Regions from separate parts of the Homo sapiens genome. Here region 2 is linked to region 1. Evidence: fine-mapped expression QTL. Tissue or cell type: subcutaneous fat. Region 1 holds a variant in brackets; the other region holds the start of a gene. All regions are shown on one strand. Distances are between the middles of the regions.

The links. PIP is the estimated chance that this variant, and not a neighbour inherited with it, causes the effect.
Region 2: TEX26-AS1 starts here. The variant in region 1 is the best candidate, but not a certain one, in a credible set for the expression of TEX26-AS1 in subcutaneous fat (GTEx, PIP 0.65).

Annotation. Positions count from the first base shown.
Region 1 is chr13:30,891,281-30,895,678 of GRCh38, reverse strand. The region is part of intron 2 of TEX26-AS1 (TEX26 antisense RNA 1); the gene reads left to right. Among named protein-coding and RNA genes, the nearest start is that of LINC00545, 11 kb to the right of the region's middle. The variant A/G (reference allele first, on the strand shown) is at 1,905.
Region 2 is chr13:30,930,242-30,934,639 of GRCh38, reverse strand. TEX26-AS1 (TEX26 antisense RNA 1) reads left to right here and starts at 2,032. Exons shown (of 4, transcript NR_038287.1): 1 at 2,032-3,394; 2 at 3,766-3,839. TEX26 (testis expressed 26) reads right to left here and starts at 1,984. Exons shown (of 7, transcript NM_152325.3): 1 at 1,864-1,984. The coding sequence starts at 1,924.

The sequences.
Region 1 (4,398 bases):
AAACAAAAACACTTGTTTTGCTTCACCACTAAGTGATTTGTAAGTGCAGAAAAATCAGAAAGTATTGATTTAATTTTTTCAAATAATAAACAGAAGTCCCCTCTATCATCCCACCACCCAGAGGTAAGCACTGAATGCCAGTTACTGTGCGTCCCCCAAGCCTTTGTCTATCTGTTTAGAGCAGAGGGCATAGAGCTCCCTATGTCACCCAGGGCAGCTGGGTTGGTGCTTAGGACGGAAGACTTAGGGGCCTCAATATCTGGATTCGAATCCTGGCTTTGCCATTCATTAGCTGTGTGACTTTAGGCAAGTGCTTCCCTCTTTCCGCCTCAGTTTCCTCATTTGTGAAATGGAGTTTATTACAGCACTCACTTCTTGGGGTTGTAGGGAGGATTAAATGAATTGTTATATGTAAAGCACTGAGAACCAAGACTGGCACTGTCTCTCTCTCTCCATATATATACACACATATGCATGCACACATAGAAATATATATAATTTGTATGTACACTATGACATATATTTATATATGTGTGTATTTACTAATATGTGTGCATTTTTCCTGAATAAAATTACATCAAACTATTCATGGTACTGTATTTGGTAGCCTTTCTTTTTATGGCTTAATTATGACATCTATGACCCCATATTACCAATAATTTAAGTTGTTTCTCATTTTTCATGATTAAAATAAAAATACCGCCATTTACATTTTTGCACTTGTATCTTTGGCAACTTGTCCAATTACTGGCTGATAATTCACCCCTAACCTGGATCAGATATTATGCTCTTTTTCAAGGATTTTGATACATAATGTCAAACTGATCTCCAAACTAAAATTCCCAAAACCATAGCAGGAAGTTACCTATTTCCCAAAGTCCTAGCCAAAACTGTGTATTATTATTCTATTTTATTTTTCCCCACCACGTTGGAGAATTTTATTGTTTTAATTTTTTTAATTTGTTACCAGGAAGGTTAAAACTTTTTATGTTTATTGGCCATTTTTATTTTTTCTGCTGTGAATTTGCAATTTAGATCCATTGTTAACATATGGAGACATCTTTTCCTTATTTGTTTGCAAGAACTCTTTATATATTAAACATGTTACCTTTTAAAATTTTTATCATTTGCCTTTCTGCTTGATAAATTCCAAAATATATCAGAATATATTTTTTACCATTCAGAAATTTTGAATCTGTGTGTATGTGTGTGTGTGTGTTTTAAGCCCTTGAGTCTAGCAATATTTTTCACTATGACTTTGTCCTGAGATCCCCAGTTATAAAGTTTTTCTCTATTTTCCCCCAAATCATAACAATATTTTTAAAAATTTTCTTCCAATGCATTTATAATTTGATTTTTTAAGATTGAACTTATCTCAAAATTAACTTGCAACTAAAAAGCTGATATGTGTGGTTTCTTCTCTAGACTCAGTGATTCTATAAATTTATCAGTATCCAAGACTGTAATAGATAGATTAAACAAAATTTTGTCTATTTCTTTTTTTTTTTTTTTTTGAAACAGAGTCTTGCTCTGTTGCCCAGGCTGGAGTGCAGTGGTGCGATCTCAGCTCACTGCAAGCTCCGCCTACTGGGTTCAGGTCATTCTCCTGCCTCAGCCTCCCAAGTAGCTGGGATTACAGGCGCCTGCCACCACGCCCGGCTAATTTTTTATATTTTTAGTACAGACGGGGTTTCACCGTGTTAGCCACGATGGTCTCGATCTCCTGACCTCGTGATCCGCCCGCCTTGGCCTCCCAAAGTGCTGGGATTACAGGCGTGAGCCACCGCACCCGGCCCCAAAAATTTGTCTATTTCTTTGAATACCAATGTTCTCCTCTAAAAAGCAAAAACAGTGAAATCTCCTCTGCTTGTAATATTGTGAATAAACATGTTTCGAAAAGTGTC[A/G]AATGCTATAGCAGTATAACAATTATGACTAAATTCAGCTTCAGGATGAGAAAGAAGTGAGACACAGGAATGAAACATTTGAGTTCTCCCAAGAAGGGAGAATACTCGGCAATAAGTTTCCTTGATTTGAACTGATGAACTCACTAAGTCACACACTTGGGAGCCATTGGGGGTGGTGTAGGATAAAGGTATTTTCTGAGCATGTCAGTGATACTTTATACATATCACAGATTTGACTTAATACTGCCAAAAAAAAAGACCCACCAAGATTCAAGTTTAATAACTTAAAAAGTAAGAAGAGGTTAATTATCAGGTATTTTATATGAAAAAAATGCATTCCTTAAGTTGTTTTGATTCTCCATAAACCTCAGGCCAAATTTTTTAGATTTATGTAAAACTACCACCTCTATTGCACAGTACTTGCAAGCCTTCTCCCTTTTTTTTTTCTCTAATCAGAGTAGTGAGGATGAGATAGGTTCAGAAGCAGCAAGCCAGGCCACCCCACTCTTGTTCCAACATTCTGGGCTCTGCTCAGAGCCGCCTCCACCCACACCAGAGCCTTGCACAGGAATTCAGTGTGCTGTCACTTGGCGGCCTTTGCCGGAGTGGCCAGAGGGGGCGCTGGCGAGAGCTAACAGCCTCCCACCCTTGTGCTTCTTCCATTGGCCCTGGACGTGAATAAATCATGCCACTGACAACTGATGGGACTCAACTTCAAAGATGAGAGAAATTACCCAAGGGGAAACAACACCAAGTTTATGAGTGAAGAGTTAAGGAGCTGTTCTTAACATTTCTGAAAGGATACCAAGAACCTACTGAATAATCCACAGTCATTCATCTTTTTTATAGTTAGTTTGCTCAGGGTCCTGAAGGACATTATCAGAAACGTGAGACATTTGGAACAGTATTCAAGTATGTGAACTAAAGCTTCCCTCATTTTCTCAGATGAAAGCTAGTAAATGTAGCAATGAGAGATACAAGAGAGCAATGTCCCACCCTCATTAGCTCATTATGGGGCTATGATTGAATTTGAGGAAAAAATCTTGATTCTACAAAATGTGCCCTTCATTTTCTTTTTTCTTTCTGTGCTATTGAACACTTTGAAGATATACCCTTTTTTTCTTCTAAGAAAAGCAAAAAAAAAATAAGTGTGACAACACTTTTTTTCATGACTCTAAGTTTGTCCTACTTATATAAAAAGTACAGAATAACAGCTATCATTTCCTATATGCCTGGACCTATTAAGGTAAATACTATCCATTTTCTAGATAAGAAAAATGACTCTCAGAGAGAGCAGGTTACTTGCCTAAATTGTTGGAGTTAGGATTTGAACCCTGCTCTGTCTCACTCAAAAGCTTTTGCTCTTTCCAGTACTCAAGGATGAAAAGAGGAAATGGAACCTTGCTGAGTTTTTTAAATCCTGAAACAATTTTCATCCATCAATTCTTGGAATCTAATTCTTTGAGGTTTCTATTAGATCTAAAGAGCTAAATTTCTTGGTTGTGTCTTCTTTCATTCCATCCCTGGGGAACTACAATTCAGGCTCTTTCTCTGACTGCTTGGTTAGCTGGTCCCTCATTCCCACAGGGTGATCCTCCTTCTACTTTCTTGTTACTTTGCAATCTGATAGAATCTCAAATCTATATATTGCCTCACTCATGAAGTATGGATTTTTGATCTACTATAATACATGCTAAAATAGTAAAATTCAACTCCTAATGGTCCCCAAAAGATTTGAATGAAAGGACATTCTAACATACAGCCAGAGAGAGACTTAGACATTGAGAAGAATATAATTCAATATTTGTGAGGTATTCAGATGGTACTGAGTACTTATCACAACATGAAACAATTGGCATGACTTTCTACCTCAGAGGTCCCCATTCTCAAGGCAAATACGGCAGAAACTGTGGATATATGCAATAGAAAAGGGATTTGAAACAGCCAGGTGCAGTGACTTATGCCTGTAATCCCAGCACTTTGGGAGGCCGAGGCAGGTGGATCACCTGAGGTCCAGGAGTTCAAGACCAGCCTGGCCAACATGGTGAAACCCCGTCTCTACTAAAAATACAAAAATTAGCCAGGTGTGGTGGCCGGCGCCTGTAATCCCAGCTACTCAGGAAGCTGAGGCAGGAGAATCGCTTGAACCCGGGAGGCAGAGGTTGCAGTGAGCCAAGATTGCGCCACTGTTCTCCAGCCTGGGTGACAAGAGTGAGACTCCATCTTAAAAAAAAAAAAAAAAAAGAGAGAGAGAGATTTGAAAAACAAGGACCCTCCCTAACAAGTCATGGCAGGACTTGACATGTAAATACTATAATCGTTTAACTCTGTGAAACTTTAAAAGAGTATCAGAACATTAGAAATATCAATTTTCTTTGTCTTTTTCACTAGACATACTGGCACAACTGAGCCTCATACCTCTACATAGGCATTTGGTAAATATTTGTTGGAAAAAATGAATGATCAATTACAGCTAAGCCCATTATTCTTTTTA
Region 2 (4,398 bases), 39 kb before region 1:
GCAGCCACTGCCATCACTAGCAGTGCCGATGGCTACCTGAAGCTGGAAGACGTAAGGACCACTTCTCCCCTAGGGCCTGTAGAGGGAGTGCAGACTTGTCCAGACCTTGATTTCAGGCTCTCGACCTTCAGAGCTGTGAGCAAATACATTTTTGTTGTTTGAATCCACCAGTCTGTGGGAACACATAGCAGCCACAGGAAACTAATACAACACCTGAGAGCCCCATCTGTAGTAATTATTCAATAACAGTTAGTCATCAGTCACCATCAACCTCATCCTATTTCGGACCAAACCTGGGCAGTGGGGACACATCAAGCCTACCATTTGGAGGGTGACTCTCCCAGCAGTGGGGAATGAAGTGGCACAGAGTAGCCATTAGAGGCCCAAGCCTGGAGGTAAAGGGGCGAATTCACCTGGGGGAAAAAGAGCTTTGGAGGCAGAATCAAAGAGACCTGGTGATCAAACTGCAGTCTCAAGGAAGCTGCCTTCCCTTCTAAATTGAGCAGCTAGGACCCTCTTAACTGAACTCTCAAAGTCTGGAAGGTTTGAGGAGGACAAGGAGTGTGATTTTGCACATGTCAAGTTGGAGGCCCTGCTGTGACACCCACATGGAACTGTCTGGTAGACAGTTAGATATTCTGGTCTGAAAAAGTAGGAAGAAAGTCCAAGTCAGAGATAAAGGTTAGAGAGTTGTTGGCACCTTTATGCAGCACTTGAAGCCCTGTGCAGGATATGGTCACAAAGAGAAGGTAAGCCTAGAAGGATCAATCCTGGGGGACTCCAACAGTTCCCAGACAAGAAGGGGATGAAATGGGGAGACAGTGGGAAAACAGGGTGGTTAGAAAGGGAAGAGAAGCATCCAAAGGGGTGCTGTCGGGATGCTAGGAGGGGATCCTCCCTCCTCTGTCTCTCCTGTTTGCCTTCCCATCATATAGAAACTGAGTGTATTAGATATTTTCTGCACTAATTAAGTATTTTCATTTTCCATTCTTAATTTACAACGGAATGAATTGGAATGAAAATATGCATTTCATTCACTCTTTTGGGAGCACAATTCTAGGGAATTTGTACTTGAACAATCCTTCACTGCTCCATAGCCACTGTGGAATCACAGTTACCCAACTATACAGCAGCAATGGCCAATTATTGCCACAAGAGACTATGATGGAGCTGACTACACGGTAATCATGCCACTAGCGTCACAGCTAGAGTGGTTCTCCCTCCACAGACCCAAAAGGCTGAACTGGTGAACCTGCTGCATCTGTGGGCAGAATTAGGATGAAAAGCACTACCTCTGTGAAATACAAAATCTCTGTGGAAGAAAAATCAATTCAGGTTAGAGGCGGCAGCTGAAGGCCATGGCTCCCAGCCTGGTGCGACAGCCCAGGGAGGGCGTCTGCCTCTGCAGACACAGCTGGGACTCCATTCAGCAGCCAACCCTTCCCCCACTTTCCTTGCTGTTTCCAAGATCCTATATGGGGATCGGGACTCAGGCAGGACCTGTTCTCTTCAGAGCTTCCAGGACTTCTCTTTCTTCTTTGCCTTTGGCCCTGTTTTCCTTGGAAAATCACCAGTTCTTCCTTTTTTCCTGTCCCCTCTTAGCCAGGCACTTCCTCGAGTGTTTAAAAACCCTGCGCGTTTTAGGGAGCGGGGATTTGGCAAAGGTTATGCGAAGGACTGAAAAGGGGCAGCGTCATGAAGGCCCTGTCATTCTCCCTGACTCCCCGTCTTTTCCTCAGTTGAGCATACTCCTAAGAGCGATGCCACACCCTTAAATACTAAGGCCCCTTTTTCTCAACAGGACCCTTTCCCCGGGAAAGACCCCAGCCCCGCCCCGCAGACCGGCAGAGTCTGCTGTCTTACTTGGCTGGAGGTTGTGGTGGCAGAGAGAGGGATCCGGAGCCCTGGGCCCAGGCTGTTCCATTCTGCCCCAGGAGGCGGCCGCGGGGCCCTGGCTCCAGCTATCTCAGCGCTTGCGGGAGCCGCGGGCTGCTTTGTGACGCGTCGCCATGGAGACAAGGATCGGGTTCCAGGGAGTTCTGCCCCTGCCAAGGGGTGCTGGCCACGCAGGAGGCTTAACCTGGCCGGCGCGGGAATGGGGTGCAGAGAGCAAAGAAATGTGGCTTTGATCTTATGGATGCCTTACTTTTACATTATTTGTACAGTTCTTGCAGTGAGCTTTCCGGACCACTGTCTTGTATGTTTCCTAAGAAAAGCAAAAAGGGAAGAGATTGAAGAGAAAGTAGATTTTCAACTACAAACTTTCATCCATTTGCTTTCAGCTTAAGCAAATGTGCGCAAAGTTGTCATGGATTTTTGCAGTCAATAAAAACCAAGCAAGAAGACTGAATCCCAAGTCATCTGGTATAAATGGAAGCAGTTTCTGTGATAGTTCCACGCGGTCAGAAGGGTCATCCTGGCTTAGGAGAGGGGCAGAAGAGGAAATGCACGCGTGGAAACAGGAGTGGGCAGGGAGGATGTGACACTGTCCTCCTCACCAGGCCACGTTCCTGGCACCAACCATAGTGTTTGTGAGGGTCAATTTAATTGTTCTTGTGCTCTCATAGAGGAAGCTGTGTCTTTCATCCCCTTGTAAGAGTTTTCACTGATGAAGGGGGTCTTTTATCTTCATATCTTGGGAACTACTGAAACTGTTTCAAAGAGTCAAAGACACCAATAACTAACAGAAATTCTTGTTTTCAGGGGCAGATAAGAAAAGAAACAATTTGCTGAAACTCCCTCTGCTTATAACAAAACTGACTGAAATCAGCCGGAATCAATATGGCCAAATGCAGTTTGCGCACAGCAAGCTTGCTGATGTCACAGCCTGAATTTCTACTGCATGTTTCATACCAACTCCCTCCAAATTTGCACATGGGACCCACCAGGAAGCATGAAGAGAGAGCCATGCATGCCTGAAGACTTCCCAGATGTTCCCTTTGCTTCCACCAATCACCTGCTAACCCCAGGATCCAACCCTAAACCTTTTGTAATAAAATTACTGCCCTAAAGCCAGTACAAGACAGATTTGAACTGGACTTTTGTTTCCTCAGAAGTTAACTTGCAATGTGAAGCTTTCCTTTTCTCAAAAACTTGGTGTCATAGTGTTGGCTTCTAGTGCAGTGAGCCCCTTTTGCTGGATAACCTTACCTGGTAATTTGACATACTAGGTGGTTAGTAACTACTGACTGTCTCCAGGTTACAACACAGTTATTACCCACTTGGGTGAAAAGAGAAGACAGGAAATACATTTTGGAGTTGGCTGGCAACCTGTTTACAAAGCAATTTACAACAGTTCCTTATTCTTAAGGGGCTATTCTAATACAAGACCTCAGAGAAACAGTGCAGTGTGACAAAGGAGGAATTTATCAAAGGAGACAGAAAAAGCATCAAGGTAAGGATCCCAAATATATGTGCAAGGAATGTCTTTAAAATGAAGAGCTAAACTAGAATTTCCTGAAGGTAGAGTTCTATCCATATAATGGAATGAATATAACACATTATAAACTCTCATGTTTTGAAGCAATGGAGGGTGGAACACATTAGAAGGCATAGATGTTATTAAAAGGAATGAGTCTAAATTAGGATTTAGTAGTGGCATCTAAATTTAAAAAGTAGCACCCAATAACAGATTACTGTCTGGAAATGGTAGAGCTAATTAGCATAGCATAATTTAAGAGAAATATATGTTTAAAATAGAGCAGCAAGTATATAGAATTTTGAAAGTGAATTCTTATTAATATCTTACAATTTGTCTCATTTTAGGCAAGCTGTGAAATGGTGCGGTAGGAACCAAATAGAGAGCCAAAGGATCTTTCTGTCACTGCAGGCCCTTAGGGGTAAGCAAATCCTTCCCTGATCCCTGGTCTCCTTATCTGTAAATGAGAATACCAGCACCCACCTCACTGTGCTGTAAACATGATGAGTTCTAACAATAATTTATAAATTGTAAAATCACACAAATCTAAGATATTGCTCTTGTTGCTATTCTGATCTTCATTCCTTTTATAGTCTTTCTACTTCAAAGTGTATTTTTGCGTGGGTCCATTTTATGGCTAGCGGTATAGCACTATTCCTGCCTTTGAATTCTGGTTGCCTGAGGCAACCCTTCTAAATGATTAAGTAGAGTATTTCCCCCCTGCTTTCTTCTCTCCCTCAACAAATACTGACTGTGCACTGAATATGAGCTGTATGATGGCATCGGGGCAACACCCTGATTATTATAGTGAACAACTTCCTAGAAAAGGAGGTGCCTGAGCTGGGTCCTCAAGGATGCTTGGAGTCAACCAGGTGAATAGGGGGAGGTGACAGGTGACACAAAGTAACGCAAGGGCCCAGAGGCATGGAACACTGTGTGTAGTCCCAAGACCTTTAGTAGTTTAATATTGCCATATTGTA